Linked DNA regions of Homo sapiens. The protein of the gene in region 2 purifies or fractionates together with the protein of the main gene of each other region. This does not show direct contact. Each region holds a gene or a part of one and is shown on either strand. Other genes may lie near its edges. The genes, in order: NRGN, RWDD2B, DENR, ACY3, DCPH1, HS1BP3 and PLS1.

Region 1 (4,365 bases), on a different chromosome or scaffold from region 2:
AAGTCTCCTTCAGCTCCCAAATCCGAATAGCTTTAAGGATATCCCCTGCTTGCTGCTTGTTATTATGTCAGGCCCTGTGCTAAGCGCTTTGCATATATTACCTCATTTAATCCCCATTTTGGAAGTCAGGAAACAGCCTCTGAGACATTTTGTAACTTAGCTAAGGTCACTCAGTTGACAAATAGTGAAGTGATGGGATTCAGTAGCCTCTGCTGCTAGCCACTGCCTCAGGGCAGGTAATTATTTCTATGAATTCAGCAGGGCCAAGCCAACTAGACTAAGCAAAAGAAATGAGGATCCAAAAAAATTCATGCGCTTTTTCATGCGCGGTGAATGCAGGAAAAGTCATATATATATATGGCTATGTAAATCAGCAACTGCAATATTTGAATCAGCATGAATAAAAAACCATTCCTCTGTCTCTTAAAAAAATAGGCAGATCTGTTTTCTTCTTCCTCATTTCTATCTGAGCCTCTGTACCAAGGAGAAACGGGAATAAGACAGGACTAGATTCTTCCCAAACACCAGGTGATGCGGTCAGTGAGGAGAGCTCCAGAATCAAAAGATGAAGAAGGACCTGCCTCTAGCCCCCAAGAGGTATGCTGTTCTTCCCACACATCTCAGCTCTCTCCCAGCACTGAGTCCAGCCCTCCACAGAAAGGGGAGGAAAATGCCCACCCCTAGCCCTGCCCTTCCCCAACCCTCCACACATCACTCCTTCTTCTTCCTGCCCTCCTGCACAGTCTGATAATGGTGCTCTCTCTTGCTCAGCCCTTTAGCCCTGCAGACCTAGGACAGGGCATGACTTGGGAAGGCTCCTGTGCACAGGGTGCACTGGAGGAGGTGCCCCAGGCCCTGGGCCATGGAGATAATTGTGTATCTGCTTCTCTTTTACCTTTTGGGTGGGTAGCCTCTCCTTTTTTAAGGGACACTGACTTCAACCATGTCTACTAATCCCTCAGTATGGCTCCCTGGGCACTCAAGAGCAACAGTTCCAGGCAGGGACCCCCACATCCTACTCTAATTACTACTGCAGACACAGAGGAGACCAATTCCATTCCTTCCCTGGCCTCTTGGATTCTTTGTTTACTCACCTCTTTCCAGTGACCACGTCTCCCACTTCCCCTTCCCCAGCAATACTCCCCTGTCATCCTCACCTCTCCCCTCCCCCCAGCTCATTTCCCAGAACCCACCATCCATTTATCTTCTCTACTTTATACAACACTGCTGGGAGGAAGGGCTCTTCCTCAGTGGAGCCCAGGAACCTCCATGAGGAGCCCATTTCTCCCTTCACAACCAAAAAATTGCTTCCTGTAGAATAACAAGCAGAGGGAAAAGGCTGGAAGGAGATATGTTATCGGGGTGTTCTCCAGGGGGTGGGACTGTAGGTGACTGACATGTTTGTTTTTCATACTTTTCTCTAGGTTTTACGTTTTCTATTATGAGCAGATTACTTTTATAATCAGTAAATATTTAGAGGAGAGGTTAAACCACAGCTCTTCGAAGAAGACAGGGCTATGTTTGAATCCTGCCTCCACAGTTAGGAGTCATGCTTCCTTGGAAAAATCTAACTTTCTAAACCTCAGTTGGCACATCTGTGAAATAATACCTACTTCACAGGGTTGTTGCTATGATTAAATATAAAGTGCTGGCTACAGGGCAGGCATTCACAAACTGGCAACTATTACTTAAACTAATAAGAGTTAAAATCGCAACCACCACCACTTGCCCCTAAGTGTTCTCTGCCTCTTGGTACCCAGACATGGGAAAGTCTCACCTATTATAGAACTGGGCTATCCTTCCCTTCCAAAGCCCACTTTTTTTTTCTTTACTATGCCATAAGGTGGCAAAGTCAGTAACCTCGTGTATCATTAGCTGGTTGACTGAATGACTGAAAATACAAGGACTTTGGAATAGTCTTTCTCCAAGTGCAGAGGCAAAAAATAAATAAGCAAACAAATAAATTTCATATACGTATGATCACTGTACTCTTCCAGTGAGGCAGGAGCCAGGGCCTATGCCAGGCGCTTTCATACCGAGTCACCTTTACAGCAAACCCCTCGGGCGCTGGGCACTTGCAGTACCCAGGTTTCCGCGTGGGCGCTGACAAATTGCAGACACTTCCTTTCCTCGCCAGCAGGGCTCTCTCGCGGTCACTTCACCCAGCCCCTTCCGAGCGAGAAGGCCTTGGGGGCCGGGACAACCCCTCCCCAGAACCACCCTGACTAGGCTCTTTGCAGCCAGCATCACTACCGAGCTAACCAATATGGACCAGCCTGCGCTGCACAGGGCGCTTAGGCGATCGTTGGAGGGTCATGAGGATCAGCCTGTCCGCCCACCGACGGCGGCGCAGTGGGATGGGGAACGGGGTGGGGGCCGAAAGACGGGAGGAAGGAGTCGCTGCAGTGTCTCCAGGCGATGGTTGCCAGCGTCTCACTGGGGAGGAAGTTCCTCCTGTCATCCAACCCGCAGTTCCCCTCTTGCAGAGCCCTGCCGAGCTCCCAGTCCAGCCTAGGCTGTCTAACGGATGGGCGCTCAGACGCCCCCGCGAGTTGAGGAGCATTTTTCCTAGGGCTTCCAAGTCGGGCGGGCGCCTTCCACCATCCACCACCCACGTCTCGGCAAGGACCCCTTTTCTTTCTGCTCCTAGGTCTTCCGCATCCACTTCCATCCCTCTCTCGCCCTCCAGGGCTTTCTCAGGCGCCTCTCGCAGCGGACCCCGCCAAGTGCCCCTCCCCCGGGCCCTCTAACTTACGGTGCAGCAGTCCATGCTGGTGTCGGGGGGTCCTCTGCGGGGACGAAGGCTGGCGCAGGGCGGGGGTGGGGTCTGTGTGGTGCCGGGTGGGGGCTCTGGGGCAGTCGGCCGCCAGCCGACCCGCGCCGAAACAGCAGCTCTGCTCTCGGGTCCGGTCTCCCGCGCTCGGCTCCGCTCGCGAATGTAACCTGAGCCCCGCGGCCGGGAAGCCAATCAGGAGCAGCCTCCGGCAGGGTGGGCGGGGAGAAGTGGAGGGAGGGCCACGCCCTCTCGCGGCTCTCTGCGCCGCGCTCCCGCTCCTGCCCCAGCCCCTCCGCCTACACGCTTGTATCCAAGCCTCCTACACACTCCATCCTCCCGGGCGCAATCCCCTGGCTTGCTAGGCGGCAGACTGCCAGGCAGATGTACGCCGGAGTAGGCAGAAGGAGGCCCCCGACACCCCGAGCACAAACACCCACATCTGGGCACAGCACCTACTCCCGCTCAGAGAAAACCACGCACCCCTCACCCATCCCTCCATACTTCCACAACCTAGCAGGAGTCCCAAATATGGCTCCCTTTCACTTCACTCCCCCTCAGTCCGCAAAGAAAGGCTCCCTAACGGGCGGTAAAAAGGTCTCATCATCACTCCTGCTACAGACGGAGAAACCTGTTGGTACAACCTGGCGATGGGCATGCGTCCACACAAAAGCTCACAAGCCCCACATGTCCACATATGATTTTCCCAGGCCTTCTTCCAGCATACAGACACTGCAGATACAACCTGCAAAAATAACTACGCAGCCCTTCAGTTGCAGGTAAATGCGGACACCCTGTTGCGGGCGCCCGCGCGCTCACGCACGCACACGGACAGTCACCCAACTCAAGCTGTCGGCATGACGTATCTATTATCGATCTGTCTACATGAGCTGCAACAAACAACATCATATATGCACAACACCTATTTTGTATGTATTTATATATGGGCACAGACTTGGAAGAAGTATCCTCCTCCCTTTCATACCAGACTCTGCCTAACCTTTTGATCTGCTGCCTCAGAATAAGACAAAAGCTGGCCATCCTCGCCCTTGCTCCTGAGAAGAAGAAAAATACCCTAAACCCAAGTGTAGAGAATTCGAAGTAATTGGCTCTTGGGTCCATGATGAGGCAGGATGTGGGCTTCGTGAGAGGCTGGGAAGGGGAGCTATGGAAAGAGCATCTGGGAGGGACAGACTGCCACTGTTGTGGTCGTCAGCCTCCCCCAACTCGGCAGGGTACAAAAGCTGGCAGTGTGGCTTGTTATGTGGGTAGGGTAGGCCTTCTCTGAGAAAACTAGAAAGTCTTCTCAGCTAAGGTCCCAGAGAAGGGAAGGAGGAAAGGATGGCTCCTGCTGGGAGCAAAGGTGGGAAATGCCCTGTGGCTCTGGTTGGGACAGCAGATCCTGAGACAGCTCTGCTGTGCATCCCCAGTCCCTGGCCATGACCAGGGACCACGTGGCGGTGACATGCTTCCTTTCCACCTAGATGTTTGGGCCCGAGGCTCTGCTTGCCAAAGGAAAAATGAGTGGGAGAGAAATGCCTGAGTCCATTCAGGGTGGGGATAAGGTTAGCCAGCTTGGGGTCCCAGGCTGA
Region 2 (4,723 bases):
GATGGTAACGTTCTATATGTTAATATGGCTTGAGTTCCATAGGCGTGTGCATTTAAAAACTGATGTGTATTTAAGGTATGCATTTCATTTTTACCTTAAAAAATCCTTAATTTGAACTCCAATGATGTGCATTAGAGGTACTTAGAAGCGTACTGTCTGCAGTTTACTTTTAAATGTATGAAAACAGATAGATTGATGAGGTATGTGACAAAGCTGGTAGAGTAAAATTCTGTACTCTCCAGGTCAGTGTTTTTCAACCTCAACACTATCAACATTTTGGACCAGCAAATTTGTTGTTGTCGGGGGATGTCCTGTTCATTGTAGGAAGTTGAGGAACATCCCTGTGCTCTACCTACCCCATGCCAATACCATCCTTCCAGTTGTGACAACCCAAAATGTCTTCAGACACTGCTAAATAGAGGGGAAATCCATCCTTCCCCTTCTCTTGAGGTCTGCTCCACTGTAAAATTCTCTCGACTTCGCTTTACACTTGAATTTTTTCATAATAAATGTTGGAGGAAAAAATAAATTATGACATTGAAAAACGCTCATGAAACACTATGCAGAAGACGTAGTTTATGAAGACCTACAATACATACTGTCGTATTTTTGTTTAAAAAAAAAAAGTGGAGGGGAGACCTAGCAGTGATATTTAGTATTGCTAAATGTCAATGTTTACAAATCTTATCTATGACATTTCTAAAATGAATATTATAAAGTGTATTGCATATAGTTGGATTGGGAAGAAAAACATTTCTAATTATTCTCCTGTCAGCATCTCCTTCAAACTACCCTTTTATTAACAGGGATAGATATGCATTCACACGGTTCCTCCCAGCTTGGTTAATGGGCAAGAACACCTAAGATAGCCAAGGCCACCATGCATCCAGGCTCACATCTCCCTAATTGCCCTCCTCCATGATTCAGGGACAAGGAGGATCACCATCGTGTGGGAAGATACTAGAAATGTAGAATTTGGAACCCCACCCCTACCTACGGAATCCTGATCTGCACTTCAACAGGATCCCCGAACTATTCCTAGGCGCGTTCGAATTTGAGGAACATTAACGGACCAATTCTTTGTCCCTGAAAAGTGCCCGTTATAGAGGCGGCCGCTGGGAAATGACAACGGGGTTGGCATGGAGAGGTATTAAGTAGAAAAACTCCGGCCGGGCACGGTGGCTCAGGCCTGTAATCCCAGCACTGTGGGAGGCCGAGGCCGGTGGATCACCTGAGGTCAGGAGTTCGAGACCAGCCTGGCCAACATGGTGAAACCCCATTTCTACTGAAAAATACAAAAATTATCTGGGCATGGTGGTGGGCGCCTGTAATCCCAGCTACTCGGGAGGCTGAGGCAGGAGAATCGCTTGAACCCAGGAGGCGGAGGCTGCAGTGAGCCGAGATCGCGCCACTGCACTCCAGCTTGAGAGACACAGCGAGACTCCGTCTCAAAAAAAAAAAAAAGGAAGAAAGAAAGAAGAAGAAGAGAACTCTGCGACTGAAAAGTACCTAGCAGGGACAACGCATTCCCTACGTCCTTCCAAGTGCAGACACCAACACCGGCGGACGCGGCTCCCAACAGGCGAGCCCCAGCTTCCGGTCCGCGGCCTTGGACGCGCATGCGCCGCATGCTTTTTTTTTTTTTTTCCGGTAGGTCGCCAGCTGAGGCGGTTTGTAAGTTTTGGGTCGCAGTATGCTAGAATTTTGAGGCTCCCTTCTGATGAAAATTGAGCTGTCCATGCAGCCATGGAACCCGGGTTACAGCAGTGAGGGGGCCACGGCTCAAGGTGAGTCTCGCCTCAGCTAGCGCCAGTGGTGACCGCCACGGGGGTTTCCCACGCTGCAGCGCCCAGTGCAACCCTTTGGGAACGTGCCCGGCATGGCGGCCCCGGTTCCCCTCACTGCATGCGCCCATCGGTCGGCTCGGTCCTCGGCGTTGCTTCCCGGCTTCTGCAGCCCTGCTCCAGCCGGGGACCTCGCCCCGGGGGCAATCAGGGTGCGAGGGCGGCTGCGTGCTGGGCTTTCTTCCTGAGAGCGTCTTGGCTTGGGTCGCGGGGTACCCTGCTCTGTTCTTCAAAAAAAAATCTGCAAGGAAAAGATATTATTCCACTCAGAAATCTCAAGTTTCAGTCTGCGTTCTCTTAAATATATTTTATTTTTTAAAAAAATAATAAAGGCGAGCTCTTACTATGTTACCCAGGCTGATCTTGAACTCCTGGGCTCAAGCAGTCCCCCTTCCTCTGCCTCCCAAAGTGCTGGGATTACAGGCGTGAGCAATCGCGCCCGGCCACAGTCTATTATCTTACAGCATTCGCTGAAATCTTGAATCATAAAATTATCTTGAGGGTTTTTTGGAAGGACTGAAATCTCTTAAGCGAAAATAATTTGGCAGATAAATGACCTGTGACATCACTCCCGTAGTTGTCCGTTCAAGAGTCCCTCCGTCCCGTTCTTCTTTGCTAATCCCATTTCATCTTCGATACCTCCAATTCAATAGCACCCTCTCCCAACTTTACTCACTCCCTGGGAGACTTTAAACAAATATATAGTTCCAAATAAGTGTTGACTCCCAAGATTATATATCTAGCTGAGTCTCTCGTAGACTTCAAAACTATACATCTAACTGCCTGCTAGACCTCTCTATTTAACAGGTGTCTTAGTAGGCACTTCATTACTTGTGTCTAAAACCAAGCTTCAGCTCCCCATGACCATCAACGTCTAAATAAATGGCAGATCCATACTTTCAGTACCTTAAAGCCCCGGAGTCATTCTTCCGTGTCTCATGTAATTCATCTGTAAATCCTGTTGCCTCTGTTCTCTGCATGTATCCAGAACCTGAAGCTCACCAACTTGACCACTATAATCCTATCAAAGCCACCATCATCTCTCCCTAGTTATTGCGGTGTCTATATCTGGTCACCCCACTTTTCCTTTCACTTTTCTCCATAGCAGCAAGTGTGGGGATCTTCATAAGTCAAACCTCTCTTGTAGCTCTTACATGTCAGTCGGGATAAAATTCAAAATTCTGGCCATGCTTTACTAGTCCCAACATAAACTGCCCCACATTTCCTTACTAAACTCTTCTATTCCCCGTGTCCTCAGCTCACTGTGCTCTGGCCAGCTGTTCTAGCACCCTCCTTCCTCAAGGCCTTTGAATATGCTGTTCGCTTTCCCTTGAACACTCTTGGCCAAGAAAAACACATGGCCTCCTTTTTCAGTTCCTTAAAGTCTCTTCCCTACAGTCACCTTAGGAGAAAGGCCTTTCCTGACAATGCTGTGTGCAGTCTCACCCCTGCTGCCTCATTGTTTCCCTTATCCTTGTTTTCTTTTTCAGGTTTCTTCATAGCAGTTATTCACTGGGTACAAAAATTCTTTTTTGTTTTTTTTTGAGACAGTCTTGCTCTGTTGCTCTGGCTGGAGTGCAGAGGTATGATCTTAGCTCACTGCAACCTCCGCCTCCCCAGTTCAAGCGATTCTCCTGCCTCAGCCTCCCTAGTAGCTGGGACTACAGGCGTGGGCGACCACACCTGGCTAATTTTTGTATTTTTAGTAGAGATGGGGTTTCATCATGTTGGCCAGGCTGGTCTCAAACTCCTGACCTTAGGTGATCCGCCCACCTCATCCTCCCAAAGTGCTGGGATTACAGGCGTGAGCCACCACCGCACCTGGGCTGGGCGTATAAATTTGTTTTTGATGTCATGGTATCCTCCCACCAGTAGAGTTGTTTTATTACTTTCATTCATTGTTATCTTAGTGCCAGTGCTTGAACGTAAGTGCTTGAGAAACATTTGTTGAAATGATGACCAATAATAATAATAGTAATAAGCAGCCGGACACGGTGGCTCATGCCTGTAATCCCAGCACTTTGGGAGCCCAGGGCGGGTGGATCATGACGGCAGGAGTTCGAGACCAGCCTGGCCAACGTGGTGAAACCCCGTCTCTACTAAAAAACCCAGAAAGCAGAGGTTGTAGTGAGCCGACTCTGCACTCTGGCCTGGGTGACAGAGCTAGACCCTGTCTCAAAAAAAAAGGTTTTTTTAATTAATAATAATAGTAGCAAGCACGCATATAAAATTTACTGTTGCCAGGCACTTTCCACAAATTCTCATCTAATCATCACAGCAACCCTCTCATCCCAGTTATGGAGTTGGGGAGACTAAAGCACAGATAAATTAAGCCACTTGCCTAAGGTCCTGCAGTTGGTAAGTGGCAGAGCCAGGAGTCGCACCTTGGCAATCTGGTAATAGAATCCAAAAACACTGGTAACAGAGCCACGCCAACAAAAAAACAAAGTAAACCATTTCCTCTAATAACCACCCAAGTAGTTGTTTTTTATGTTTCTCAACTCCAAAACAGACCAGCAAATATGTATATGGAATTCCAATAAGTCCAGGGATTTTAAGTATGTATGAGGATTTTGTTTAAAAAAAAAAAGGCCGGGAGCAGTGGCTCATGCCTGTAATCCCAGCACTCTGGGAGGCCAAGGCGGGTGAATCACCTGAGGTCGGGAGTTTGAGACTAGCCCAACTGACATGGTGTAACTCCATCTCTACTAAATACAAAAAATTAGCTGGGTGTGGTGGCGCATGCCTGTAATCCTAGCTACTTGGGAGGCTGAGGCAGGAGAATCGCTTGAACCTGGGAGGTGGAGATTGCAGTGAGCCGAGATTGCACCATTTCACTCCAGCCTGGGCAACAAGAGCGAAACTCCGTCTCAAAAAAA
Region 3 (3,923 bases), on a different chromosome or scaffold from region 2:
TAGAGATGGGGTTTCACCATGTTGGCCAGGCTGGTCTTGAACTCCTGACCTCAGGTGATCCACCACCTCGGCCTCCCAAAGTGCTGGGATTGTAGACGTGAGCCACCACACCCGGCCTAGAGGCTTAATTAGATTCAAGTTAAACAGATTTTGGCAAGAAAGTTTCGTGGATGATGTTTCATTCATCATGTTGCATTGCATCAAGAGCTCATAATGTCAGATGTTTCACTATTAGTGATGCTAAGTTTGAAGGTGACGGCTAAATGTTTGCATTGAAAAGGTACAGTTTTCCCTTTCCAAATAAGTAAGTGATCTGTAAAGAGAAATTGACTTTTTTAAAGCAAATAATGGTGAACTTAAAGGAGCTCCCCCAATTTTTTTATTGCATTAGAATTTTGCTGAACCGGGCCAGGCACAGTGGCTCACACCTGTAATCACAGCACTTTGGGAGGCTGAGGCCAAGGCAGGCAGATCACTTGAGGCCAGGAGTTCAAGACCAGCCTGGCCAACATGGCAAAACCCTGTCTCTACTAAAAATACAAAAATTAGCTGGGTGTGGTGGTGCACACCTGTAATCCCAGCTACTCGGGAGGCTGAGCTACGAGAATCACTTGGACCCAGGAGGTAGAGGTTGCAGCCAGCTGAGATGGTGCCATTGCACTCCAGCCTGGGCAACAGAGCAAAACCCCAATTTTTTTTTTTTTCTGAACTAAATATTATTTGAAATAGTATACAAAATTTGTAGCTTTAGTATTTGCTGTGATGGTGTTTAACCAATAATTGTATAGTTATATCCTGAAAGTGTGGCTGAACAACTATGCCTAGTATTTGAACTTGAATTGTGAGGAATATAGGGCTGTAGCTAACCAGAGAGATCTTTGGTGGAAATAACCCTAAACTATAATAGACTAGACTGGACAAAACCAATGGATTCCAGTTTTCTTCTGCCACATACCACCTTTGTCATTGTATGAGCTGTTTAACTCTTTTAGTGCCCCATCTGTAAAATAGTGATTGTGTGGTAGCATGTTAGAATGTTAGTAGGGTGAGGTGAAGGCAGATCATTTTCAGCTGTCAGGTGCCACTAAGTTGCTTGTTTACTTTGTGTAACCTAAGTTAGTGGTTAATAGCATGAGCGTCAGAAACAGGCAGATTCAAATCCTGTTATCCAGATGCAAGTGGTTATGTACTCTAAGCCTCAGTTTCATCATCTGAATATAGATATGGTACTTATCTTACAAGGTTGTGATAACTAAACATAATAATGTATATAAGGCATAGCAAAACATTTGGCACATACTAGGTGCCCAGTGTGTAGTAATTGCTGTGACTACATGGTATACCACCTTCCTCTCCCTGAGAAATCTCAGGATATTGGACACACTGAACTACTCCATTCTAAACCTTAAACATAAAAACAAAAGGCCGGGCGCGGTGGCTCACTCCTGTAATCCCAGCACTTTGGGAGGCTGAGGCGGGCGGATCACAAGGTCAGGAGATCGAGACCATCCTAGCTAATACTGTGAAACCCCGTCTTTACTAAAAATACAAAAAATTAGCCGGGCGCGGTGGCGGGCACCTGTAGTCCCAGCTACTCTGGAGACTGAGGCAGGAGAATGGCGTGAACCCGGGAGGCGGAGCTTGCAGTGAGCCGAGATAGTGCTACTGCAGTCCGGCCTGGGTGAAAGAGCAAGACTCCGTCTCAAAAATAAATAAATAAAAACAAAATAAGCAGTTGACCCAGTATTAGAATTACGGTTAAAATTGGAAGCTTTTCCAGTTCTTCTAGTCCATTATTAGCCTGTACAGGCTCTAACACCAAATGACAGGATTGAACCAAGATTCCTTCTAGCTTTACACTTTCATGATCTTATGTAGCATAACATGAAAAAGCCTTGGCAACATAGCGAGATCCCGTCTCTACAAAAATAAAAAACTTACCTGTACATAGTGGCTCACGCTTATAGTCCCAGCTACTTGGGAGGCTGAAGCGGGAGGATTACTTGAGCTGAGGAGTTCGAGGCTGCAGTGAGCCATGGACACACCACTACACTCCAGCCTGAGTGACAGAGTGAGAGTGAGACCCTTACTCTAAAAAAAATAGGCCAGGTGCGGTGGCTCATGCCTGTAATCCCAGCACTTTGGGAGGCTGAGGCGGACGGATTACCTGAGGTCAGGAGTTTGAGACCAGTCTGGCCAACATGGTGAAACCCCGTCTCTACTAAAAATACAAAAATTAGCCGGGCGTGGTGGCACACGCCTGTAATCCCAGCTACTTGGGAGGCTGAGGCAGGAGAATTTCTTGAGCCCAGGAGACAGAAGTTGCAGTGAGCCGAGATCGTGCCTCTGCACTCCAGCCTGGCAGAAAGAGCAAGACTCTGTCTCAGAAAAAAAAAAAGGAAAAATATATTGCAAAAAGATGGTAGTAAAAATGCTGCTAAAGTTTATAAATGTGTCAGTATGAATAAAAAGTGGTGGCTGTTTTGGTAGAACCATCAAAAGAAATAACCAGGCTGGGAACAGTGCTTCACGCCTGTGATCCCAGCACTTTGGGAAGCTAAGATAGGTAGATCGCTTAAGCCCAGAAGTTTGAGACTAGCCTGGGCAACATGGTGAAACCTTGTCTCTACAAAAAATTAGCTGGGCATGGTGGTGTGCATCTGTAGTCCCATTTAGTTGGGAGACTGAGGTGGGAGGATCATTTGAGCCCCTGGAGGGGTGGAGGCTGCATTGAGCCATGATTGCACCACTGCACCCCAGCCTGGGCAACAGAGTGAGACCGTGTCTCAAAAGAAAAGAAATAACCAGTTTCCTTCAAACTCTGATGTATGGGAAATTGTTCGTGTCTTAGCTTAATTTTTTGACCCACTGAAATGGTTATGGTAAGACCTCATTATATACAAAATAGCATATTTTGATGTTCCATCAGCTGATGGAGACACTCTTTAGATGAAAAAGTCAAGATAGTATCATCTCAAATAACCATGTGCCTTTTACCCCAAAAACACTGAAGAGTAGCATTTGAAAAGTGGTATAGAAAACTTATAGGGAAAATGTAAAAATGAAGCATTTTCTCAAATATAAAAGTAAGGATAAGCCCTGTGTATGTGTGTACATATAGGTTTAACATTTCAAATCTTTTTTCTTTTTACTTCCTCAGTCTGTTCATTACCAACAGAGGTAAGTTCTTTAATTTTTTTTTTTACCTTATGTATTTGAAGTTATTCTTGGTTTTAAAGCTACCTTGAGAATTTTTTTTTATTTTTCATTTTTGATTATTTGATAGTAAAGCTTTAACCTTTTATAGAGAACTTTGATTTAGAGTAATTTTTTGGTCTTATATATTCTTTCCTAAATTTAGACCTTAAATCATACATGTGCATCTTTTGCACATGGCTGTGCAGTTTGGATTTTTGCATGGGACTTATGAATAGTCAGCTAATAAAATAAGAGTAACCTTAATGCCAAAATCTATACAAATGAGCAGAGGAAAGAAAGGGCAGTATAAATTATGTGTAAGACTTTCTAAGTCCAGCTCTATGAGCAAGTCATGAAAATGAGGCACTTATGTGCTCAAAGCAAGAAATAGAGGGAGAAGAAATAAATTGGTACTGTGAAGAGGTACCTAATCCTTCTTAATATCTAATTTTTTATGGGACATATCGTGGTTGAATACAGATTTCCTGTGGATAAGAAGTCAGATGGGAGTGGTTTGTTTTATTCTTTGTATTAACAAGTATAGGGGGTGATTTTTAATTACGACATATTGTTTGACTGAAAATGTTTTGTTGTGACTCAGTTCTTTTTTTTTCTCCTAGTACTGTGAATATATGCCTGATGTTGCTAAATGTAGACAATGGTTAGAGAAGAATTTTCCAAATGAATTTGCAAAACTTACTGTAGGTATGAACATTTTTTTTCTT
Region 4 (3,261 bases), on a different chromosome or scaffold from region 2:
ACGTACCCCCACGGCCCAGTCTGTCCCCTAGCCTGGAGGGAGGGATGGGCTCACACACCCAGCCTCCCACACAGGTACGGCCTTTCCTGCCTTTGAGATGGAAGCCTATAGACCCGTGGGCGTCGTGGACTTCCCCCGCACCGAGGCCGGGCACCTGGCAGGCACTGTGCATCCTCAGCTGCAGGTGTGTGTGTGTGTGTGTGTGTGTGTGGTGGGGGGTGATTTCTGGGGCCACAGCCTTGGGGAGGAGGATTGTCAAGGAAAACTGAGCCCCAGGGGGTGCAGCCAAGCCTCCCACGAGCTCACCAGCATCTCGGGTTGAGGAGCAGGATGGGAGGCTGGGCTCCGCCATCCCACTTCCCCTGGCCCTGCTGCCTTCCCTGGAACCCCACACTCAGGCCTAGCACAAGAGGCCACAGTGATCCCCATAGCTCCTGTGGAGGGCATGATGGAGACAACCCTACCCTGGCTGTAAAAGGCAGAGGGAGGGGACATGGAGCAGGCATGACTCAATTCACCTGCTTGGAGGTGCAAATACAAAACTCTCTTCTGATTTTCAATTGGTTCCTCGAGCATCCCCATGCATGTTGGCAGTATGTCTCTCTGCAGGCCTTCCCTTCCTGAATGTTCCAGGATTAGGCAATCCTGCTTCCACACCTTTCCCTTGGGTGCCTGAGAAGAACGTACTGGCTGCTGCTCTGCTTGCTGCCACAGGGGGTCATTGTTGAATAGGGTCTGGTGCAATCTTGTGGCCTTTTGTGCCCTGAAGTTTCATTTTGAGGAGTTACCTTCTTACAAATGGAGGCAGCACCATCCCGTCCATGTTTAGGGCTAGACAGTCTTAATCCAGCCGTGCCCAGCTACCTTGCAGACGTTCAGTCATAACAGTCAATTTGGGTGGCTCCTCCTACAATTTTAAAATTTATTTTATTTTTTATTATTATTTTTTGAGACAGAATCTTGCTTCATTGCCCAGGCTAGAGTGCAGTGGTGCGATCTCAACTCACTGTGACATCTGCCTCCTGGGTTCAAGCGATTCTCCTGACTCAGCCTCCCCAGTAGCTGGGATTATAGGCACTCACCACCACACCCAGCCAATTTTTGTCTTTTTAGTACAGACAGGGTTTCACCACGTTGGCCAGGCTGGTCTCGAACTCCTGACCTCAAGTGATCTGCCCACCTCAGCCTCCCAAAGTGCTGAGATTACAGGCCACTGAGATTATGAGCCACTGTGCCCAGGCTTAAAATTTATTTATTTATTTATTTGAGACAGAGTCTCGCTCTGTTGCCCAGGCTGGAGTGCAGTGGCATAATATTGGCTTACTGCAACCTCCGCCTCCTGAGTTCAAGCGATTCTCCTGCCTCAGCCTCCCGAATAGCTGGGATTACAGGCGCTCACCACCACACCTGGCTAATTTTTGTATTTTTAGTAGAGATGAAATTTCACCATGTTGGCCAGGCTGGTCTTGAACTCCTGACCTCATGATCCACCCGCCTTGGCCTCCCAAAGTGCTGGGATTACAGGCGTGAGCCACTGCGCCCAGCCAAAATTTATTTAATAAAGAATCATATTGTACTTACCGTGTGCCAGACACTGCTGTAAGCACTATTAACCTGTTTAGTCTAAACTTCAGAATGATAGGAGGAGATATTGTAATCCTTATTTTACAGACAAGAAAGCTGAGAAACAGAGGTTAAGTGACTTGCTCACAGTTACACAGCTAGCAAGAATTTGAACTCCAGCTTCAATACCTGTGCCCGTATCCATGAGGGTCCACTTCCACATGGGCACATGCCACCCCAAGGTGACCTGTGTCTTCATTTCTAGACACAGAGCAGACTGGTATCTCACCAGACCTGCTGTCATATGGATTAAGGAAGTGAAGCATGGGTGGGAAAAGCCATGAATGAGGGGCATCTTTTGGGTGTCAAGCTGGGGTCACCCCCCTCTGGGGCCAGGGCAGAGGTGGCCCCAGCAATCTTGGCCTTTGGCTCTCCTCCCAGGACCGAGACTTCCAGCCACTGCAGCCTGGTGCTCCCATCTTCCAGATGTTCAGTGGGGAGGACCTGCTCTATGAGGGAGAGTCCACGGTGTACCCCGTGTTCATTAACGAGGCTGCCTACTATGAGAAGGGCGTTGCCTTTGTCCAGACTGAGAAGTTCACATTCACCGTGCCTGCCATGCCCGCGCTGACCCCTGCCCCGAGCCCAGCTTCCTAACCCAAGACACACCTCCCCAACCTCAGTCTTCCCATCTGAACGATGGGTCCTGAGGCACAGCTCTGAGCACAGAGGTCCCTTCTGCCACCTACCATGCACCATGTTCCTTGCCAGGCCTCCCCAACCCCTGGCCTCAATTTCCCTTTCTATAAAATGGAAGATGTCCAGAGGTCCATGGTTTGTGTCCTCTGTCCTGCACGGCTCCTCTCTGGCTGGGGAAGTGGATGGAGGAAGGGAGGTTGACCACAGGATCTGGGGGAGGTCTGGCCAGTGCAGCCTTGGACCTGCAAGTGTCTTGGGGCCAGTGGTGGCTGCCTCTGTGCCCACAGCTGTCCATCCATGCCTGGGGGAGGATTCCAGAGTGTGGGAGGAGAACCTGAAGAAGGATTGCTCTGGATCCAGCGGAGGGGCTTCCAGAGGAGGCTACAACCCAGAGGGGGACCCCCCAACCCTCCTATAGTCCTGGGGCCAGACAGTGAGTGTGGGGAGCGCAGAGACAGGCCCATGTCTGTGCACACATGTGTGTTTGTCCGTGCATGGCGCCTGCCCTGGATGCTCTTTGGCGTGCGTGTCTGTGCGTTTCCCACACACACGTGTTTCCAAGAGCCTCAGTTCCTTGGGCGTTCTAAGGGGATCTCTATGTGGCCAGATGTGCATTTTTAAGTGTGTAATGAGCCCGGTGCCCATAGTGGCTCAAGCAGGGAGTCAGGGCTGGGGGAAGGGCCACAGCAGGACAAGGCTGTCCCCATGCAGGACAGCCTGTCCAACTGCAGAGATGCAGGGAGGAGGTGGCTTGGGTTGGGGCACAGGGACTTCCCAGCTCTAATTGGGAAGCCACCATTTCCGCCATCCCCAGGACACCGCGCACTGATGTCAGGCGAGCCGGCATGAGGCCCACTGCTGAGGGCCCCTCTGTCCTGATGCTGGCACCCTTCAGGGTGTCATGGCAGGACAAATAGGCAGGGCTATATGCGACCTGGCTGCAGCCTCACTGCCCGCACCTGCCTGAGCCTAATGGACTCTTGTTGGACATCTGGGGCT
Region 5 (3,923 bases), on a different chromosome or scaffold from region 2:
CACCTGTGGGTGTTTCTCGTAAGGTGGAACGAGAGACTTGGAAAAGAAAAAGACACAGAGACAAAGTATAGAGAAAGAAATAAGGGGACCTGGGGAACCAGCGTTCAGCATATGGAGGATCCCGCCAGCCTCTGAGTTCCCTTAGTATTTATTGATCATTCGTGGGTGTTTCTCCGAGAGAGGGATGTGTCAGGGTCACAAGACAATTGTGGGGAGAGGGTCAGCAGACAAACACGTGAACAAAGGTCTTTGCATCATAGACAATGTAAAGGATTAAGTGCTGTGCTTTTAGATATGCATACACATAAACATCTCAATGCTTTACAAAGCAGTATTGCTGCCCGCATGTCCCACCTCCAGCCCTAAGGCGGTTTTTCCCTATCTCAGTAGATGGAACATACAATTGGGTTTTATACCGAGACATTCCATTGCCCAGGGACGGGCAGGAGACAGATGCCTTCCTCTTGTCTCAACTGCAAGAGGCATGCCTTCCTCTTACACTAATCCTCCTCAGCACAGACCCTTTACGGGTGTCGGGCTGGGGGACGGTCAGGTCTTTCCCTTCCCACGAGGCCATATTTCAGACTATCACATGGGGAGAAACCTTGGACAATACCTGGCTTTCCTAGGCAGAGGTCCCTGCGGCCTTCCGGCCTTCCGCAGTTTTTGTGCCCCTGGGTACTTGAGATTAGGGAGTGGTGATGACTCTCAAGGAGTATGCTGCCTTCAAGCATCTGTTTAACAAAGCACATCTTGCACCGCCCTTAATCCATTTAACTCCGAGTTGACACAGCACATGTTTCAGAGAGCACGGGGTTGGGGGTAAGGTTATAGATTAACAGAATCTCAAGGCAGAAGAATTTTTCTTAGTACAGAACAAAATGGAGTCTCCTATGTCTACTTCTTTCTACACAGACACAGTAACAATCTGATCTCTCTTGCTTTTCCCCACATGTTATGTTAGACATAGGTCTTTAAACTTGTAGGTTCAGTAATCTTTCTATTACACAATAGACTGTAAAAGAGCATACATATACCAGTACATTTTTTTTGAGAGTTGAAAACAAAAATTTAGAGAAATGGTTGGTGATCTTTTCTCCTTGGCCAAATTGAAATGGAGCAAGATAACACACATGCAGTTTGAGTGTAATGTTCTACTTCTTTCAACTTCTTTTATATTGTCTTGTTTAAAACTAATCCTGGCATAACACAGGGATTACCTGTTGTTCCTTGTTGCTAAAATCCGGCTTAATTTAGACACTGACAATTATATTGCTGAATGGTTTTAATGTTTATCACATAAACATAATTTTGGTAACTGACATATCTTTATCACACAAGTATAATTTAGCCAAATTTGGATAGTTCACTTTAGTATTTGGTCATATACGCAAGCAAATTACCATAATACTTTTGTTTTTCTTGTTGTTGTTTTTTGAGACAGGGTCTTGTTCTGTCTACTAGGCAGAGTGCAGTGGTGCAGTCATAGCTCACTGCAGCCTCAAACTCCTAGATTCCAGCAATTCTCCCAGTTCAGCATCCTAAAGTGCTGGCATTACAGGCGTGAGCCACTGTGCCTGGCCCCATAATGCTTTTGTAATTTCAGTTTTTTCGGCCAGAGTGATCTAAAATGTAGTAATTAATGAAGTCCTAGTATATTGCTACTTGGCCTGTATGCCCGTAATCACCAGGTGACTGAAGGCAGAGTTTATTGTCTCTCCAGCCCTCCCCCATTTCACACTCTACTGAGCACAGAACAAGATGTAAATTGACACAGATAAAGTCTGCTTTTGGTAGCCTTTCTGTCCCTTTTTCATGCCTCTGTTATACCTATGGCCACTCTCCTTGGGCCTCATGTGTTCTAGCTTCCTAAGCCCCCACCTATAGCAGGGCCAGGCTTATCTCCGAAGGAGCCATGCCACACAGTTTTCTATCTTCCCCCACCTCAGCGGTCAAACGTCCGTGCCCTTAGACTACCTGGTTTGGCAGATGTGTGTCTCTTGGAGACAGGACCAGGCTTTATTCATCTTTCTCTGGCCCTGAGGTTAGTGTCAGGCACATACAGGGTTCAGTAAATGTTTGAATTCAATTCAAGTAAGTGAACAAAGTGGCAGTGACATCACTATTAATCCATTAGCCTTTTTAGGTATATGCTTCTGTAAAAGGGTGCCTGACACCCTGTAAAACCTCAGTTGTTGGAATTTATAGTTAAAGAGTTGAAGTTTAAGACTTTAGGGAAGAGATTTGGAGGAGGGGGAGTTCCTCTCAAAACAGTCAGCTACAACTTCTTTTCTTCTATTTCTGAACCTGCAGAATCTCGAAAGCTTCAATCTTTTTTTCTAGCAGCAAAATAAATTGTACTTGGAACAAAAGAAAGATTGGAGAGATGTTTATATTGAGAAAATTACAGATCTGAAAGTAGGGACTAAATATCAACATGATAAAAATGATCTTATAAAAATACTCAGGCTTGATGTTTATTCTCTACATTTTATTATATACGTGTCTTATTAGGCTTACATTTTCTTTTTTTTTAATGGAGCAGGAATCTTGCTAATGTAAAACCAAGGTGTGAAGTCATTTTCACTTCATTCTGATCCCATTACATTTGTCCCCACTCCAATTGGCCTGTTATGTGAGATAATATTGTAGTGCCTTGTTTGTCAGCATATGTCATCTCTCACCTAGCTAGAACTTGGTGGAAAACAAGTTAAAAAAAATTTGAGCTACCAAAAGAAACCTCAGAAAGCCCACAGTTTCTTTTCTAGTGGTGTCAATGGTGAAAGAAGAATATGTATGGAAGCATGAAAGACATGGAAAATCTGGCAGGGGTTCCTTTCCCTCTGTGGTAATGGTCATCCCACCGAAGATACAGAAAGGCCAGAACTTAGGTAGATAAGGCATGATTATGTTCATATGAGATCTGTGTGTGTTTTTTGATTTTCAGTTTAAGAGTTCTAAATGTAATGTTTAAAGAAATAAAATGTAGTTTTGAACATTTTTCTTTTCTTCTTAAGTCTGTAAAAATATGTTACCCTAGAGGAATTGCACAGACACACACACACACACAATTTATTTTTCTTGTATTTTTGCAGGAAGGCGTGGAAGCTGAAAAGAAAGCTATCTCTCTCCTTTCTAAATTACGGAATGAATTGCAAACAGATAAACCATTTATCCCCTTGGTTGAGAAATTTGTTGATACTGATATATGGAATCAGTACCTAGAATATCAACAGAGTCTTTTAAATGAAAGTGATGGAAAATCAAGATGGTTCTACTCACCGTGGTTGTTGGTAGAATGTTACATGTATCGAAGAATTCATGAAGCAATTATCCAGAGGTACGTGTGTAATCATCAACTATCAAATGTTTAGATAATTTATACTTTTTCTGAAATTGTAAAAGGATAAGTTTAAAAATAAGCACCAGTGGAAGCTTGAATTTGGTTGAGTTTAGCAAATCTTAATAGCATTGTTGGACATTTCTACAAATGTTACTGATGGACATTTCTACAAATGTTACTGATGGACATTTCTATAGCTGTTACCAATTTAACAGATTCTTGGCAATTATAATCTACTTGCCTAGAATAGACATAAGAGTAAATATCTAAAGTACGAATTGGCCAGGCCCTGAGGTTCATGCTTGTAATCCCAGCACTTTGGGAGGCTGAGGTGGGCAGATTGCTTGAGGTCAGGAGTTCGAGACCAGCCTGGCCAGCATAACGAAACCCGTCTCTACTAAAAATAAAAAAATTAGCGAGGCATGGTGGCACGGGCCTGTAATCCCAGGTACCTGGGAGGCTGAGGAATGGGAATTGCTTGAACCTGGGAGGCAGAGGTTGCAGTGTGCCAAAATTGCACCACTGCACTGCAGCCTGAGCACCGGAGTGAAACTCTGTCTCAATAAAATAGATAAATAAA
Region 6 (3,923 bases), on a different chromosome or scaffold from region 2:
GCTTTTGTTACATGAGTGGTCAGAGCATGGTTGCATGCTAATAAGCGTGGGCCAGTAAGGAAGGAAAATCGATGGTGCGAAAAAGAGGGGTGAGCTGCAGCAGCTATGTCCTTCAGTAGGTGGGAGGGCCTCGGAGCCGCTGCCCTGGTAGAAGGTTGGCCTTAGGAGCAGCCAGCCAGTTTGTCTACAGTCCCAGGAGAGGGCAGCTATCAGGGAGCAGCTGCAGGCTGATGGGCAGATGTGACAGCGAAGCCTAGGATGTTCTCCGATGGTCTCTGGAGCAGTACACAGCAGTGTCCACATCACTTGGGAATTTGCTAGAGATGGTGAGGGCACACCCCGGGGCCTGCAGAACCAGAATCTGCATATTAACAGGATCCCCAGGGGGTTGCACGCACATTACAGTTGGAGAAGCTTGGTCTAGGGCACATCCTGCCCACCACACCCCCATTTGTTTATGTACTCTCCGTAGCAGCTGCAGCAGAGACCAGATACCCTACACAGCCTGAAATATTTGCTATCTGACCCTGTAGAGAAAGTTTTCCTATGGGTTCAGGGAAGTGGGAGGGTGATGGAGTAGGCCCAGGTGCATCAGACTCGTCGGAGGGCTTACTAAGAAAACAAGATGGCTGGCCACCCTAGGCCCGAACATGCCTTTCTTACAAGTTCCCAGGCGATGCTGATCCTGATCCAGGGACCACACTTTGAGAACCCCACATCTAGGGCAAGGTAGGGTTGCCAAGCCTGGTGTGGTGCTGTGCCTTCAAGTCTGCAGCCATGAATTTCAATGGGACCAGGCTGCATGTTTACACCATGTCTGTCCCCAGTCACGTTGAGCCACTTGGGCACAGGGTGAAGGAAGCAGAGAACTGGAGAAGTGGGCTTTGACCAGGCCAGCTCAGCTCTGGGTAAGAAGTCAGGGGAGCTGGGCCTAAGGCAGAGGGATTCCAGCAATGGAATGGGACCCTGGAAAAGGGGTGGGGTTATGGATTGTGGGTTCTGGCGTGGTCAGAGAACCATTGGATGTGGGGTGCTGTGAGGGAGCTGGATCGTGGGAGGTGCCCATCTGGGTCTGCTCCATCCCTTTCCCACCCCTGAGAGGACCTCCCCGCAGCTCAGGCACTGCCCTTCTTGTCACTTTCACCCCCCTGTGCCTCGTTTTCATCATGATCCTAAAGAAATGATGCCTGGCTTCTTTCTCATGCCTGCCCCATAAGAGGCCACCTGGGCTCTGGAGCAGCTGCCTGGGATTGAACGCAGCTCCACCTCATGCCGGGTGAGACCTGGGCAGGCACTTTCCCTTTAGGGGTCTGTTTCCCTGTATTTTAAGTGGGTCTGGGTAGCAGAGCTCCTTCGCAGGGTTGCAGGAGGCGGAAGTGACTTCACACAGGTGCATCCCTAGAGCCCAGCGCGTCTCCCCTCAGCATCCAGCCTCACCTTCCTCCTCCACACTGGTGGCAGTGACACCGTGGGTGACACCAGGCCGCGCGTGCACACTGCGTGAACTCGGTGCCGTTGGCAGAGGGCTGGCTGTGCGTGTGCACCTCCCAGTGCCCATTCGGCCCTTGCTGCACTTTTCACCACCTGAAGGCAGGTTGCCTGGGGTGCCCTACGCCGCGGGAGGATATTCCTTGTGTGTACAGCACTCAGTCATTGGGTGTCATACATGGCATAGGAGACGCATCACTGTAGGCCTCACCAGTTGGTGACAGCAGCGTTGTGCTGGTGACAGCGTGGCCTAGCGTGGGATGTGAGGGGTCCGTGTGGGAGGAGTGCTGGGGCAGGGGGATTTGATGGATTGGGGTATAATTCCAGAGAGGGAAGGGCCTTGCCCCAGACACAGGTTAAGCTCCAGAAGCTCCTCCCGTGTTTTCAGGGTCCTGCCCAGCACACAGGAGGTCTCACCTCGATGGTCAGAGCTGCTCAGAGGGTGCCCCACGTGTCCTGCCAGAGGTGTTTGCGTGAGGGATGTTAGTCTGCACAGGTCTGTGTCTCACCTTATGTAGGATGAGGGATGTATTTAATAACTTTTTCCACTTCAAGAAAAACATCTCATCACTTCTTTGCTCATCATACAATTCATTATATTCGAATTGCATTTTACAAATCTCCAAGAGCGGTGATGTTTTGCCGATGCATCCTCTCTACACCTCGAGGGGCAGCATCGACTGCCCAGATGAGGGACGGGCCTATCAGTGCCTCTCTGGGCCACGGTGGGTCACAAGGGTCCTGCCTCCAGTGCTCGTCCCGTGTCCCCCCCAGGGGGCCTGTAGCAGCCCTCCTGCCCATTAGCCAAAGAGAGGTGCCTGTCTCCAGCTGGGATTTCAATCCCTTGCTGTCCCTGCAGCCCCAGGCATGTTCCTTGGTCTGAGTAGAGGCCCTAGGATGCTGCTCCCACCCATTCTGCACAGAGTTTGTGTCGATCCCTTTCAACAAGCCCCATCCTTTCCTGTTTTCCTGCAGGGAGCAGACCTTTGTCCCTGAGCAACCCAAAGGCAGGACCAGGTCCGAGGCCTCGAGGCCTGGGAAGCCAGGCTTATGAGGGCTGGTGTGGCGGGATGGGTGGCCTGGAGCAGTGACCACTGAGGACAGCCAGCAGAGTCACCTGGCACCCAGGCCTGCCAGGCACCCAGAGGCCCTGCCTGCACTTTGCTCGGGAAGCCTACTGCCTTGACCCTGAACCCCACCTGCCTTCTTTTCCCCTGGCAGGCGACTTCAGAATGCCCACACTGGCCTCGACCTGACTGTGCCCCAGCACCAGGAGGTACGGGGCAAGATGATGTCTGGACACGTGGAGTACCAGATCCTGGTGGTGACCCGTCTGGCTGCGTTCAAGTCGGCCAAGCACAGGCCCGAGGATGTCGTCCAGTTCTTGGTGAGCCGGAGGCTCTGGCCAGGATGTTTCGAGGGTGCCCGGGGTCCGGGCGGGCAGACACATCTGCCCACCAGGGTTCAAGTAGCATCCAGAGCAAGTGCTTCTCTGTCTGTTGCTTGCTCAGGGCCTGGAGTACCAGACCATGCTAGACAGAAGGGACACAGGGTGAATCAGACGCTCTCAGTCCGTGGAGAGGCAGACCTCTAAAGAGACAGATACAGATGGGGACAGGAGCACCTGGGGGGCTCTGGGGGTATAGAGAAGGGGCACCTAACTGACCCTGGGGAAACTTCTTGGAAGAGGCGGTGGCTGAGCTGTGTTTTGAGGAACAGATGGGGCTCAGCAGGAGAGGTGAGAAGGGTGTCCCGGGCAGACAACACATCCTAAGCAAAGGCACGGAGGTTGGAAATAGGACATTGAGTGGGAACTCTGCACAGTTGAGTGTGGTCCTGGGAGGAAGCGGGGAAGATGAAGGTGAGTGACAGGCAGGATCCAGATTGTGGAGAGTCTGCGGGAGCCTGGACTTAACCTGCAGCCAAGGAGAGTTTTAAGCAGGGGAGTGACGTGGACCCTTTTGCCTTTAACCAGCCAATCTGCTGAGAGCATGGAGTTGGATTGGAAGGAACAAAACAGGTGTCAGGGAGCCCAGATACATGGCCAATATGGTCATTCCCAAATCAAGGGCTTGGAGCAGGCCAGTTGCACTTGGTATGGAAGGGAAAGGGAGAGTTGAAAATGTTTACTGGGTAACATGCACCACATTTGCTGACTGTTTCCACCAACTGAAATAAAGAATATGATGGAGGAGCAGACCTAGGGGGCATGTGGAGTGTGAAGTGTCTGCCCTGTGGATGGATACATGAGGCTGGAGCTCGGGACGAGCTCAGGCCTGAGATGTAGGCTTGGGAGTCATCAACTTGGAGGTGATATTAAAAATCTGGGAGTGGATCAAGTTGCCCAGAGAACAGAAGTGGAAGGCAGAGAGAAGGGCTGAGGAGGAAATCCTGAGGATGCCAGGGGTTCAGGGACTCTTGGGGAGAAGGAGGAG
Region 7 (3,923 bases), on a different chromosome or scaffold from region 2:
GGAGTCTCAAAATGGAACTCAGCTGAGAGCGTGCTTCCCTCCCTTGCTGCCTGAGCTCTCTTTCCATTTCCTGGTTCTGCTTTACCTTCCCCTGAGTGGTTCTGTGTTCCCAGGATATGAAAGGCAGGGCCGCAGCTTCTGGCTTCACCGGGCTAATTTTTGTATTTTTAGTAGAGTCGGGGTTTCACCATGTTGGCCAGGCTGGTCGCCAACTCCTGACCTCAAGTGACTCGCCCGCCTCAGCCTCCCAAAGTGTTGAGGCTGAGGCCACCTCTGGCCCTCATTCTCTCAACATTCAAAAGCTTGTCACTTCATCCAGTTCCGAATTAACATTTTACTCTGGCTGATGATGAACGTCGGGGAGAAAGAGACATTTGTGCTGCATACGGGTTTATTGGTTATAAAATGGTTATACAATTTTGATTGCTGGAAACTTTGCTGACATGTAAGGTCACATGAGATGTGAGGCTGTTCAACTTTGATCATCTGATTTCTTTTTAGCACTGTGTCTGAAAGTGCCTATGTGCCGTTTTTGGTGAGACATATGTAGCATGGCTTCTGTAAAGGCACGTTGCTTTTTATTATAGTAATATTGTGGGCACAGAAAGGGTGAGGAGTTAGATGATTGGGAGAGTTTTTTCTTACTTAAAACACTTGTTTCATCAGAAAATATTTCCTAGCAGAGTTAGACATAGCTTTGTTCATAAAGTCCAGTGGTGAAGGGACTTCAGACTTTACGATAAACTAAATTTTATGATTGACTTTTGTGAGCAATTCACAGCTATAAAACTACGAGACTGGCTGGGCATGGTGGCTCACGCCTATAATCCCAGCACTTTGGGAGGCTGAGGCAGGTGGATCGCTTGAGCTCAAGAGTTCAACACCAGCCTGGGCAACATGGCAAAACATCGTCTCTACAAAAAAATTATCTGGGCATGGTGGCGCGTGCCTGTAGTCCCAGTTACTTAGGCTGAGGTGGGAGGATCATTTTGAGCCCAGGAGATTGAGGCTGCAGTGACCTGAGATTGTGCCACTGCACTTTAGCCTGGGTGACAAAGTGAAACCCTGCCTCAAAAAAAAAAAAAAATACCTACAAGAACATCTGGGTGATAACTCACTGCACACAGACATGCCTCCTTCAAAAGATCCAAGCTGACCACAAAAAAAAAGGAGAAACTGTCTTTTCTTGATAGTAAATTGGATGGAGACATTAGTAAGGTAGAAGGTGTCTGAGGGGCTTCTTCATGATAAAAAGCAAAAGGTTTTGGGGTGTCACTGACCCAAAATATTAGCAGAAATCAGATTTACTCTATTATTGAGGAACACAATACATTAAATTGTTTATAGATCCAGTTTCAAGAAAGAAGATGTTTATATTAAAAAAATGACAAAAGCTCCTTCAATTTTTTTGAGAACTAAGAAATAAGAGATTTTAGCAGTACTGCCAAAATAGAATTTGGATTTGAATTTAAGACACTGGTAAATGTGTGTGGAAGGATCGGTCTTGTTAATTACACCTTGGACCAAGGGCTGCTTGGAATGAATAAAAGAGGGGGAAAGGTTTAGACAAGTAGAATCTCTAGGTTGATATCAAGTTAGTATTTATAATCTTTGTAAATAAACCAAAACCTCTCAAAGACTCCTGCTGTCTCTTCCTGGAGAGCACTCTGAATTCTTTCCTGGCGGTCTCCCTTTTCCTTCCCCTCTCCCCAGGTTTAAGATCATTGGGACATCCTTTTGGTCAAGGAAATGTTTCTAAGAGTGACCTAGTTATTGGAATTTTAAGTGTTAATCAGGTCAGTGAGGTGCCATCTGTGAAACACAGCTCACCAAAACCCAATGTTTTTCATCAGAAGTTGTCATGGAAGTGAGTTGATTTTGGAAAAACAACAATAATAGCAATTTGCTTGATCCCTTTCTTATCCTCAAATAGCCAAATTAAATTCAAGATTATTGGCCAGGTGCAGTGGCTCACGCCTGTAATCCCAGCACTTTGGGAGGCCGAGGCAGGCGGATCACGAGGTCAGGATATTGAGACCATCCTGGCTAACATGGTGAAACCCCGTCTCTACTAAAAAATACAAATAATTAGCCAGGCGTGGTGGTGGGTGCCTGTAGTCCCAGCTACTCAGGAGACTGAGGCAGGAGAATGGCGTGAACCCGGGAGGCAGAGCTTGCAGTGAGCTGAGATCACGGCACTGCATCTCCAGCCTGGGCAGCAGAGCAAGACTCCGTCTCAAAAAAAAAAAAAAATTCAAGATTATTATCAGTGGAAAAAGGAAATCTGAAAATCTCTGAATGTTTAGTGGTCAATTAAAATGAGTCTTAGGGCAATTTAAAGTTTAGATACCTGAAACCAGTTGGCCTATGATCAGAACCATGGATGAGAAGTCAAAGTCTGTGATTCTGTTTCTGACCCCATGAGAAGGAAGGCCTTCTCTTCAGCTGTAGGTTTGATAATTAAACAAGATAGTGGATGTGAAAGTAACTAGTCAACTACAAGATAGAGGAAAGGCATTTATTGATGTTTAAAAAAGCTTTCTGATTTTACTTCCTTTCACTGATAAGTGGCCAAGACTTAGAGAATGACTTGCCTGCTGGAGGTTGCCTGATTTGAAACTGCCAGAAATTAAACTCATAACTGTGTCTTATAATTTCAACATTTGAAAAAATGTCAGGGTTAATTTTTTTGAGACAGAGTCTTGCTCCGTTGCTCAGGCTGGAGTGAGGGGCACAATCTTGGCTCACTGCAACCTTTCGCCTCCCGGGTTCAAGTGATTCTCCTGCTTCATCCTCCCCAGTAGCTGGGGTTACAGGCATGTGCCACCATGCCCAGCTAATTTTTGTATTTCTAGTAGAGACATGGTTTCTCCATGTTGTCCAGGCTGATCTCGAACTCCTGACCTCATGGGACTTCAGTCTAGCTCCAAATCTAGTGCTCTTGCAGTCAATTCATATTTTCTTCTGTTACTGACCATATGAAATAATTCCTCTATGAAATTTATGTGCAATTTTTATAAAAGTCTAAATGTATTTTATGGCTAACCCTCAACTATGGAGCATATTAACATTAAAATGAGTTCTTGAAATAAGAGTTGATTAACATGGGAAAATATCCATCTCTTTCATCTTGAACAAAGTAGTTTTGTTTTAAAACTTATACTTCCTGCTAATGTACATCTGGAATGTGTAGGATAAAAGATTAAACTTTCTAAATATTTTACAAAGTTATATTCTCCCTATGTGATATATATTGTTCTGTGGGAGACTAAGCCTTAATTGAAGTATTTCTGCAAGGTTACTATAAGCATTTCTCATACCACTAGGACAATAAATAATGGGAGAACCCAAAACATTGTAATTTTCTAGTAATTCAGAGGAAATAACTGAATCCTGAAACATTGTACAAAAGGGTACACAATGATACCCATTTTTGCATGTTAATGTATTATTAAATATCAGTGGGAATAGTCTGCATGCTATTTCACATCTCAGGCACACTTAAGGAAGACCTTGTGATGTGCATGTTGCTCATTTAATCTAGAAAGGATACCAAGATTCATTTAGAACTTCTTTATGCACAGTTTTTTTTTGAGTATGTTATGTCCTGAGGCATTAAGGGTATTACTAAAGCAAGCAGCGGGACTTCTCAGAGAAATTAAAGGTTTCATATCAACCACACGTTGTCAAAATCTTCACTTTGAATAGGATTAAATGATGTTTCATCAGTATTCTTGGCACACATGACATTGTTTTTAAAATAACAGTTTTATTACTCTTGGCTGTGACAGTTTCTCAGACTTTCCTTAATATCATACAATTCTCCAATTTAAACTGTATAGTCAGTTTTACAATATTTTAATTACCCTGTATTCATTAGCACTTTCCTCATTTTCTACTACCTCCTCCCCAGCTGCCCCTAC

The links.
Region 1: the proteins of RWDD2B (region 2) and NRGN purify together in Homo sapiens (affinity purification with mass spectrometry; 2 studies listed by BioGRID and IntAct, with this or other methods). This does not show direct contact.
Region 3: the proteins of RWDD2B (region 2) and DENR purify together in Homo sapiens (affinity purification with mass spectrometry; 2 studies listed by BioGRID and IntAct, with this or other methods). This does not show direct contact.
Region 4: the proteins of RWDD2B (region 2) and ACY3 purify together in Homo sapiens (affinity purification with mass spectrometry; one large-scale study listed by BioGRID and IntAct). This does not show direct contact.
Region 5: the proteins of RWDD2B (region 2) and DCPH1 purify together in Homo sapiens (affinity purification with mass spectrometry; 3 studies listed by BioGRID and IntAct, with this or other methods). This does not show direct contact.
Region 6: the proteins of RWDD2B (region 2) and HS1BP3 purify together in Homo sapiens (affinity purification with mass spectrometry; 2 studies listed by BioGRID and IntAct, with this or other methods). This does not show direct contact.
Region 7: the proteins of RWDD2B (region 2) and PLS1 purify together in Homo sapiens (affinity purification with mass spectrometry; 3 studies listed by BioGRID and IntAct, with this or other methods). This does not show direct contact.

What each region holds. Positions count from the first base shown.
Region 1 is NC_000011.10:124,738,490-124,742,854, reverse strand, and holds the start of NRGN (neurogranin), read right to left. Parts: upstream 2,914-4,365; 5' UTR 2,771-2,913; coding exon 2,756-2,770; intron 1-2,755.
Region 2 is NC_000021.9:29,016,275-29,020,997, reverse strand, and holds the start of RWDD2B (RWD domain-containing protein 2B), read left to right. Parts: upstream 1-1,648; 5' UTR 1,649-1,720; coding exon 1,721-1,787; exon of another isoform or gene 1,788-2,085; intron 2,086-2,750; exon of another isoform or gene 2,751-3,412; intron 3,413-4,723.
Region 3 is NC_000012.12:122,759,027-122,762,949, forward strand, and holds part of DENR (density-regulated protein), read left to right. Parts: intron 1-3,160; coding exon 3,161-3,180; intron 3,181-3,818; coding exon 3,819-3,903; intron 3,904-3,923. UniProt on the Homo sapiens protein: Translation regulator forming a complex with MCTS1 to promote translation reinitiation.
Region 4 is NC_000011.10:67,641,683-67,644,943, reverse strand, and holds the end of ACY3 (N-acyl-aromatic-L-amino acid amidohydrolase (carboxylate-forming)), read left to right. Parts: intron 1-74; coding exon 75-184; intron 185-2,004; coding exon 2,005-2,220; 3' UTR 2,221-2,389; downstream 2,390-3,261. Other genes in the region: T-box transcription factor TBX10, read left to right, coding at 3,190-3,261. UniProt on the Homo sapiens protein: Plays an important role in deacetylating mercapturic acids in kidney proximal tubules. Also acts on N-acetyl-aromatic amino acids.
Region 5 is NC_000006.12:151,455,233-151,459,155, forward strand, and holds part of DCPH1 (damage-control phosphatase ARMT1), read left to right. Parts: intron 1-3,095; coding exon 3,096-3,340; intron 3,341-3,923. UniProt on the Homo sapiens protein: Metal-dependent phosphatase that shows phosphatase activity against several substrates, including fructose-1-phosphate and fructose-6-phosphate.
Region 6 is NC_000002.12:20,644,292-20,648,214, reverse strand, and holds part of HS1BP3 (HCLS1-binding protein 3), read left to right. Parts: intron 1-2,709; coding exon 2,710-2,875; intron 2,876-3,923. UniProt on the Homo sapiens protein: May be a modulator of IL-2 signaling.
Region 7 is NC_000003.12:142,602,698-142,606,620, forward strand, and holds part of PLS1 (plastin-1), read left to right. Parts: intron 1-3,923. UniProt on the Homo sapiens protein: Actin-bundling protein. In the inner ear, it is required for stereocilia formation. Mediates liquid packing of actin filaments that is necessary for stereocilia to grow to their proper dimensions.